2 separate regions of the Homo sapiens genome follow, and region 2 is linked to region 1. The links come from fine-mapping of genetic effects on gene expression. A gene starts in region 1. The other region holds a variant in brackets. All regions are shown on one strand. Distances are between the middles of the regions. Region 1 holds the start of AP3M2 (adaptor related protein complex 3 subunit mu 2). Region 2 has its middle 72 kb from the start of CHRNB3.

Region 1 (4,246 bases):
CAGGCACATGAGATTTCCCAATCTCATCTTTGCAAGCAGAGCTCATCAGTACCACTCTCTCACTATAAAGAACCACCTCAAACCTGAGAACTAGTACAGGTTCATGAGTTACCCCTGACTGGGAGAGTTAAATTAAGCATTCCTTAGCTTTTTCTACTTTTTCTTTTCTAAAACTTTATACAATCACTTTCTGATGCAACTCAAAGCAATGCAGATAACAATGGTTAGGATCAAGACCACCAGGCAAAAACAATCTAAACTCTAATTTGTGAGCAAAAAGTAGAATCAGAGCTAGAAAGGCTATATATAGTCATCGCAAATAGGATGACTTTCCCACGCAAGAGGTTCAAAAGTATTCCATTTGTCATTTTGCATGCAGCCAATTCAATAAATAGAAACCAGAATCTTATCAGATGGGAGAGGAAGTGAGTAATACCAGAGTTTTGATTTTTTTTTTTAAGTTTCTTAATGGAGGCTTTACACAATGGAAACAGGACTACAAAGACACTTTACGGTTTACATATATGAACTTTCCCACATTCACGAACCTGAAATGTGTCCACCACTCGGTGAAGAAACTCAATGACAAACAGAGGGGGGACCTCCGTCTGGATCACGGCCACAAAAAAGATCTTGTGGCGGTAAACACTTAAGAGATAGTGGTGAGGGGTAGGGATAACCGGAGGCACATTTTCTGCCTCAGTAGCTCTCTCTTGCGCCTCAAAAAAGTAATCACAAACAGAACGGCTGACCACACTTTTCCAATGTTTCTCCAGGAAAATGTCTCCAGAGGAGTTGATCAAGAAAAGACTATGGATCATGGTGGCGATTGTCAGTGACAGAAGAAAGCCTTTTTCAGTCTGAAAGCCTCAGGACTCTGTAAGTTTTCAACTCTAAAAACAAAAGCAGCGATATTCAGTTCCATTCAACCAAAAGGCCCTCCCCATCTTTTCCCAACAGTCCAAGACTTACCCATCTTTCAAGACCAGGCCCAATCTTCCCCTCCTGCATGAGCCTGAAGATAGCCCTCCCTTGAATTCGAAACGATAATGATCAGTCATCTGACTGTCAATCATATACTCCCAGTTATCTTTACTATCGCCCAAATTGCATCCATTTAAAATACTACTTATCTGTGGGTGTCTATTTTCTCAACCGAACCGCAAACTCCTTGAAGAAAAGGGCCGTGCCTCATGTTTTGCGTTGCCTGACTGCAACACAATCAGTGTTCTTTGAAGAGGGCTTCCAAGAACACTGAATTTGATGTCATGTTTTGGCAACAGCTCACACATACACAAGAAATGCGCAGCTTAATACGATAGCCACTATGGGACCAGCGAGCACTTGAAAGGTGGCTGGTGCGGACTGAGGTGTGCTGTTAAGTGTAAGACACACGACAAATCTGAAAGGCTTTGCATGAAAAAAAAAATTTCAAATATCTTACCAATAATTTAATATTGATTATATGTTGTAATAACATTTTGGATATCCTGGGTTAAATCAAATATATTAAAATTAATTTAACCTGTTTTATTATTTTAAAGTGGTTACCAGAACATGTACAATTACATATGTGGTTTGCTTTCTATTTCTGCCCACCAGAATTGGTGGGAGGAATGGAAAGCTGCCCTTGGGGGTCTTTATTCATCCAATCAGAGCTATTCTCTGAGCACTCCTTAGGCACTTGTTAATGCAGTAAGACATTTAAAAAGATCCCTTGGGGCTCCCGCCTGTGATCCCAGTACTTAGGGAGGCCTCCGCGGGCAGACCGCTGGAGCTCACGAGTTCGAGATCAGCCCGGGCAACAGAGGGAGAACCCCGCCCCCTCCACCTCCAAAAAAAAAAAAAAATTTCCCTGGGGGACAGACACCCCAAGGCCCTCAGACGGTTGCATCTCTCTGGTGCCAGTCGCCAGGATGTGGCCATTCCGCGAACCGGCGCGGGTGGTCAAAACGCAGAGGCCTGCGGTGCCCAGCGCCGCCTGGAGGAGACAGCAGGAGGGAGAGACAGCCAGGCAGCCCGGGGTGCGAGGGAGAGGCAGCGGCCTAGGCAGGCGGTCCCTGCGCAGGCCCCGGCCCAGAGCCGGCGGCGACGGAGGCCGCGGGGCGCAGGCGGGCAGGGGCCTGGCTGAAGGGGCACGCGCGTTCCGGGGTGAAGAGCGCAGGGGTGCCGGGCCGCGCCAGCGAGCGCACGTGCGCTGCCATGGCAACAGTGTCCCCTCCGCCCGCAGCCGCGGCGCCGGGAAGGACGCCCTCCCCGAACTCTGAACCCGGCCCCTCACCTCTCCCCGCCGCGTCCGCAGCCCTGAGAGGCCGCCCGGCTGCATCCTGAGACCCCGCCCCGACCCTCGCGCGCCCCCACTCCTGCCCCCTCTCCAGGCTCGGGGTCGTCCCTACTCCTCACCTGGCCTTGCTGCTCTCAGCGCCCACTGCTCCTAGGCGCGGACAGGCCCCGCCCCGCCCGCCGCGCGCGCTGAGGCAGCCGCTCGCCCGCTGATTGGCCGGCCCGCGGCCTGGCTACCGCTCCGCCCACGATCTGCGCCTGAAGGCCGCTGATTGGGTATCTGGGAGCCGCTCCTCCCCTCTGATTGATCGCTGTTGGCGGCTTGCCCTGTTGTCGGGCTCGAGTCCCCCGATTGGCCCTGTTGAGGCCACGGTCATCTCCGATTGGTACAGCTCCGAGACCCCGAGTCCTGATTGGAGGTCGAAGACAGTGCGTGCTGCTCGGCCCCACTCATCCAGTCACAAAGGGCTGGGGCGGTCGCCGCGCTCGCGTGTTTGCGGAGTGCGCCTGGAGGGGGCGCTGGAGTATGTGTGTGCCGGGGCGGGGTGGCTTCCGGGCACGAGTTGCTGACAGCGCCTCGCGGTTGATAAATCCTGAGGGCGGCGGCTACCCTGCACTCCATCGGTGCCTTTGGGAAGCGCCGCCTTCTCTGTTGTACCCGGCCGTGGGTCAGGTCGGCGCGGCTGGCGGTGGAGTCTCGGACACCGAGCCCTGGACCCCGACTCTGGAAGCCCCCAGCCCCACTGGGCCGCGGCAGGGCGCCCACCCTCCACAATCTCAGTTCCCAGCCGGGGAGTGAGGGGCTGGGCGGGTCTCTCCACCGCTTTGGAGACCTCAGGACTTGGATACGCTTTTGAGTGGTCCCAGTCGTCCTGATCCACGAAGGCGTGGAGTGGAAGTCAGGACCAGGGGTCGCCCCAGTGACGCAGGAAGTCAAGCCCAGATGCGGTGAGGCGTCGCCAGCCTTGGACCCAGCAGTGGGCGCTGGTGACAGTGGCGACCTCGCCGATGAGAGGTTCGCCCTCCCTAGCATTAGTTGTCACTTTGGTGAAATGGAGCGTGGGTGGCAGCTCCTCCACACACAAGCCCTTTGCTGAGGTGGTGCGGGGGGTTCTCTCCACGCTTGCTAAGGGCAGGTAGTTGGCTGACTTTGAACTATGAAGAAAAGCCAGAAACAAAATGGCAGAATGGTATGACTCTGGGTGGGCTTAGGGACGCTGGTGCCAGAGGACTTGGCTTGAACCCGCTCCAACACTTACAACCTGAGTGACCGTGAGAAAGAACTGTAACTCCTCTAAACTTCAAGTTCCTCACTTCTCAAATAAGAACGTGAATAGTACCTCCCTCCTAGAGTTGTGAGGATTGAGTTAGAAAATGCTAGCAATTGTTATGCCCTAAGGAACAGCACAAGATACAATAACACGTGATAATGTGTGTCGAAGGTGCAGAAATGCAGTCGCTGCCGTGAGAATTTCTCATTCATTCACTGAATTAACATTTGCCGAAAACCCCCACGTATCGACCTGTGCTGGATGCTGGAGATGCTGCAATGACTGCTGTCACAGGCATTGTCCCTGTGGTTACAGGGCCCAGCAGGAAAGACAAATGAGAAGCAAGGGATTGCAATGCAGTGTGATGAATAAGGAACGCATAGGGGGTGGGAGGAGTGCTGTAGAGATGGCTGACCTAGAGTCAGGGAAGACCCTCTACCTTGAAACCTGAAAATGAGAAAGGATCCCTCAAATGCAGGGATAGATGGACAGAGAAAAAAGTACATAAGGAAGGCTCTGCAGATGAGCAAGTTAAGTATAGCTGAGCTGGAATGGTAGGAAGAGCGCAGGGAGATCAGGCTGGAAAGGTAAGTAGGGAGCCTAGTGGTTGTGAACCTTGGAAATGTTAATATTTATAAAACACTGTGTGCCATACACTGTGTTTTATAATTTGTAAGTACCATTCCATAAAT
Region 2 (4,522 bases), 470 kb before region 1:
GTCCCCGTTTCTCATGAACCAGGACTTGCTGTTTCCCCCTGGATTTCTCTCGTAAACTTGACCCTCTCTGTAGGACAGAGACAAGAGCATTTGCTCAAACCCTTCATGAATTCTTTTCAACCCTTAGACATTTCAGTCCTTCTGACAGTAATCACACCTTTCAGCTACTGAGTTATTTAACCTGAGATTCAGAGGCCTGTCCCTAGAGGAAAATGATGGTTTCAATGAGGAGCGTTTCTTAAAGCATTTTGCATTTTATTTCTTACTCCAATTTTCCAAGTGCTTCTGTGTATAGAAATTCCTACTCTTTCCCTAAAGCGTTGTAGTCTCCTTTTTACTGAAGAGAAATTAAAGTGCAGGGCTGGTGGCAGGGCCCAGAGCATAGAAAGTATCTTCAGGTGGGTCCGGGCATGGGTGTGGCCCTAGGTCACAAACCCTGGCCCTGTCCATCCTCAGGTATTACTGCCTAAAGGAGGATTGAGTGGTAGCTGAACTACAAGGACAAACAGGTTTGGTTTTTTTCCTGTTTAAGAATGAAATGCAGTCGGGCACTGTGGCTCACACCTGTAATCCCAGCACTTTGGGAGGCTGAGACGGGTGGATCAACTGAGGTCAGGAGTTTGAGACCAGCCTGGCCAACATGGTGAAATCCCATCTCTATTAAAAATACAAAAATTAGCCAGGCATGGTGGCACGCACCTATGTCACTGCACTACAGAGAGACGCTTTGTCTCAAAAAACAAAACAAAAAAACCGAAATGCTTCCTGGCAGAGTGGAGTCTCTCCTCCATCCACAGTGGACTCTCTTTATTATGACTGTGATGTGTTTGGGGTGCACAAGCTGGTGTCTTCTCCAAGGTTGCTGAGGAGCATTCTGGAAACACAAGTTGATTGTGAAATCCTCCACAATTCCTCACAGCATGGTATCACCCTGTGAGAAATGTAGGGATCTAAACCCTGCAATTCACAGTGAGTCTGCTGAAGCGTTGGACAAGGAGACTGAGATTTAATCTTCATTCTCCACTAATTGGCACTGTAATGTTCCCAGAAGTCATTTCTGCTCACTGGGTCTCAATTTTCTAATCTATAAAATGAAGGGTTGAAGTAGATCACTGTTTCTCACGCTGCAGGGTATAGACATATTTTTGTGAGCTGTGAGGTCTCCTCTATAAGAATTTTTTTTTCTAAAAAAAAAATTATTTTTCTGAGATGGAGTGTCGCTGTTGCCCAGGCTGTAGTGCAGCTCACTGCAATCTCCACCTCCTGGGTTCAAGCGATTCTCCTGCCTCAGCCTCCCAAGTAGCTGGGATTACAGGCGCCCGCCACCACACCTGGCTAATTTATGTATTTTTAGTAGAGATGGGGTTTCACCATGTTGGGCAGGCTGGTCTCAAACTCCTGACCTCAGGTGATCCACCCGCCTTGGCCTCCTTAAGTGCTGGGATTATAGGTGTGAGCCACCGCGCCCAGTCTTTTTTTTCTAAATTTTTAATTTTATTTATTTATTATTTTCTTTCAACTATCTCCCCCAGGAAGGATTATTTATTTTTTAGAGACAGGGTCTTGCTCTGACACCAAGGTTGGATCATATGACATGTGGTGGCATGATCATAGCTCACTGCAGCCTTGAACTCTGGGGCTCAAGCAATACTCTTGCCTCAGCCTCTCGAGTAGATGAGACTACAGGCATGTGCCACCACACTGAGCTAATTTTTTTATTTTAATTTTTTTTAGATATACTGTCTCCCTATGTTGCCCAGGCTGGTCCCAAACTACTGGCCTCCAGTGATCCTCCTGCCTCAGCCTCCCAAAATGTTGAGAATTACAGGTGTGAGCCACCACGCCCGGTCAATCCAACTTTTTAATTCAAAAAAGTTCAGACTTACAGAATAGTTGCAAAAATAAAACAAGAACATTTACACACCCTTCACGTGGATTCACTAATAGCATTTTGCCACTCAAGTCTATTCCCTTCTATTGGTGTTTTCTTTTTTTTGAGACGAAGTCTAGCTTTGTTGCCCAGGCTGGAGTGCAGTGGCATGATCTCGGCTAACTGCAACCTCTGCCTCCCAGGTTCAAGCGAGTCTTCTGCCTCAGCCTCCCAAGTAGCTAGGACTACAGGCATGTGCCACCACGCCTGGCTAATTTTTTGTATTTTTAGTAGAGACAGGGTTTCACCATGTTGGCCAGGCTGGTCTCCAACTCCTGACCTTGTGATCCACCCACCTGGGCCTCCCAGAGTGCTGGGATTACAGGCATGAGCCACCACGCCCAGCCATCTATTGGTGTTTTCATGTTCATGAAAATGGGCCAGGTGCAGTGGCTCATGCCTGTAATCCCAGCACTTTGGGAGGCCGAGATGGGCAGATCACAAGGTCAGGAGATCGAGACCATCCTGGCCAACATGGTGAAACCCCATCTCTACTAAAAATACAAAAATTAGCCGTGCGTGGTGGCACAGGTCTGTAATTCCAACTACTCGGGAGGCTGAGTCAGGAGAATTGCTTGAACCTAGGAGGCGGAGGTTGCAGTGAGCCAAGATCGTGCCACTATACTCCAGCCTGGGCAATAGAGCGAGACTGCGTCTCTAAATAAATGCATGTAAGCTTCTATCTGAATTATAGAATAGAATAATAACACTGAACCCATAGGGCTACTGAACGAGGGCTACTGCCCGCACTAGGGCTTGGGGGTCTGCTTGTGTCTACCTTCCCTTTGGTGTCAGGCAGTACTGCTTTAATTTTCATGAGATACCCAGAAAGGAAATGAAGAGGTCTCCACAATATCCACATCAAATAATATCATGAGG[C/G]CCCACATAAATGAAGGTTGTTCAGTAATTTTAAAGGGAAAAGGGTGTGGGAAATTTGAGTTCTTTCTCATTTCATACATTTGCAACATAGTAAAGGCATGTCAAACGCACACAAAAACTTCTCCAGAGAAGTCATTTTCATATTGATGTTACCAGTAGCACTTAATTTAAGCAAAACATCATTTGGGAAATTAAATTAATATTATTAAATTAAATTTTAGTGGTTTGGGAGGAATGCTTTTACTGACTTTGTAAATTTGTCTTATTATACCTGTTCAAGAGCTATGAGCATAAGGAATTTATAATAACGTTGGTGCAGACTTGAGCAGCACTGTAATAAAAGTAAAACTGAGATCATGCTAGAATATCACTGGGGAGACTTGCACTCATCTTGTTTGTAGACAATGGACCAGAATAAGTTCAGATGTGCCTCAAGAGGGTCAGGCAGTTGAAGTATAACCATTTTGTTATATTGAGATTCTATATAGGATTTTGTTTGGAAAATGTTTGAATATCACCTGTCTAGATTAATTTGATGAATCCATTCATCTTTAGCAACTAAACCAATTTATTTTCACTGACAACAGAAAGTACTGGTAGCTGCAGACCATCTTTCATCCCCATGCCCTTTGACATTTCATTTTCTCTTTTTTTCTTCATTATTATTATTATTATTATTATTAGTTTAGACAGGGTCTTACTCTGTCACCCAGGCTGGAGTACAGTGGTGCGATCATAGCTCACTGCAGCCTTGACCTCCTGGGCTCAAGCAATCCTCCCACCTCAGCCTCCCAAGTAGCTGGGACTATAGGCACCTGCCACCACACCTGGATAATTTTTTAAACAATTTTTTTTTTTTTTTAGACAGAGTCTCACTTTGTCACCCAGGCTGGAGTGCAGTGGTGCGATCTCGGCTCACTGCAAGCTCCGCCTCCTGGGTTCACGCCATTCTCCTGCCTCGGCCTCCCGAGTAGCTGGGACTACAGGCACCCGCCACCACACGCAGCTAATTTTTTTGTATTTTTATTAGAGACGGGGTTTCACCGTGTTAGCCAGGATGGTCTCGATCTCCTGACCTCATGATCTGCCTGCCTTGGCCCTCCAAAGTGCTGGGATTACAGGCGTGAGCCACCACACCCGGCCTAAAAAATTTTTTTAGAGGTAGGGTCTTGCTATGTTGCCCAAGCTGGTCTGAAACTCCTGTCATCAACTGATCCTCCCATCTCGGCCTCTCAAAGTGCTGGGATTACAAGTATGAGCCACCACAACTGGCCTCTCTTTTTTTACTGTGTATGACATGGAGTTATGTGGATATACATGTGTATTAATCAGGGTTCTCCAAAGAAACACAACCAATGGGATGTGTGTATCTATATGTATATCATCTATATCTATATCTATGAGAGAGAGATTTATGTTAAGGAAGTGAGTCACACAATCATGGAGGTACAAGCTCAAAATCTGCAAGACAGGCAGCAGGCTGGAGACCCCGGGGCAGTCTAAATCCAAAAGTCATCTGCTGGCAGAACTCCTTGTTGCTCAGGGGAGGTCAGACTTTATTTTATTTTAGTTTTTGAGATAGGGTCTTGCTCTGTCACCCAGGCTGGAGTGCAGTGGCACGATCTCGGCTTACTGCAACCTCTGCCTCCTGGGTTCAAGCGATTCTCATGCCTCAGCTTTCCAAGTAGCTGGGATTACAGGCGCATACCAACA

What was found. PIP is the estimated chance that this variant, and not a neighbour inherited with it, causes the effect.
Region 2: its variant is the best candidate, but not a certain one, in a credible set for the expression of AP3M2 in spinal cord (GTEx, PIP 0.74).

Annotation. Positions count from the first base shown.
Region 1 is chr8:42,151,263-42,155,508 of GRCh38, reverse strand. AP3M2 (adaptor related protein complex 3 subunit mu 2) reads right to left here and starts at 2,446. Exons shown (of 9, transcript NM_006803.4): 1 at 2,404-2,446; 2 at 549-893. The coding sequence starts at 821. RefSeq lists a silencer at 1,931-2,540 and an enhancer at 3,371-3,490.
Region 2 is chr8:42,622,936-42,627,457 of GRCh38, reverse strand. No RefSeq gene overlaps it. Among named protein-coding and RNA genes, the nearest start is that of CHRNB3, 72 kb to the left of the region's middle. The variant C/G (reference allele first, on the strand shown) is at 2,810.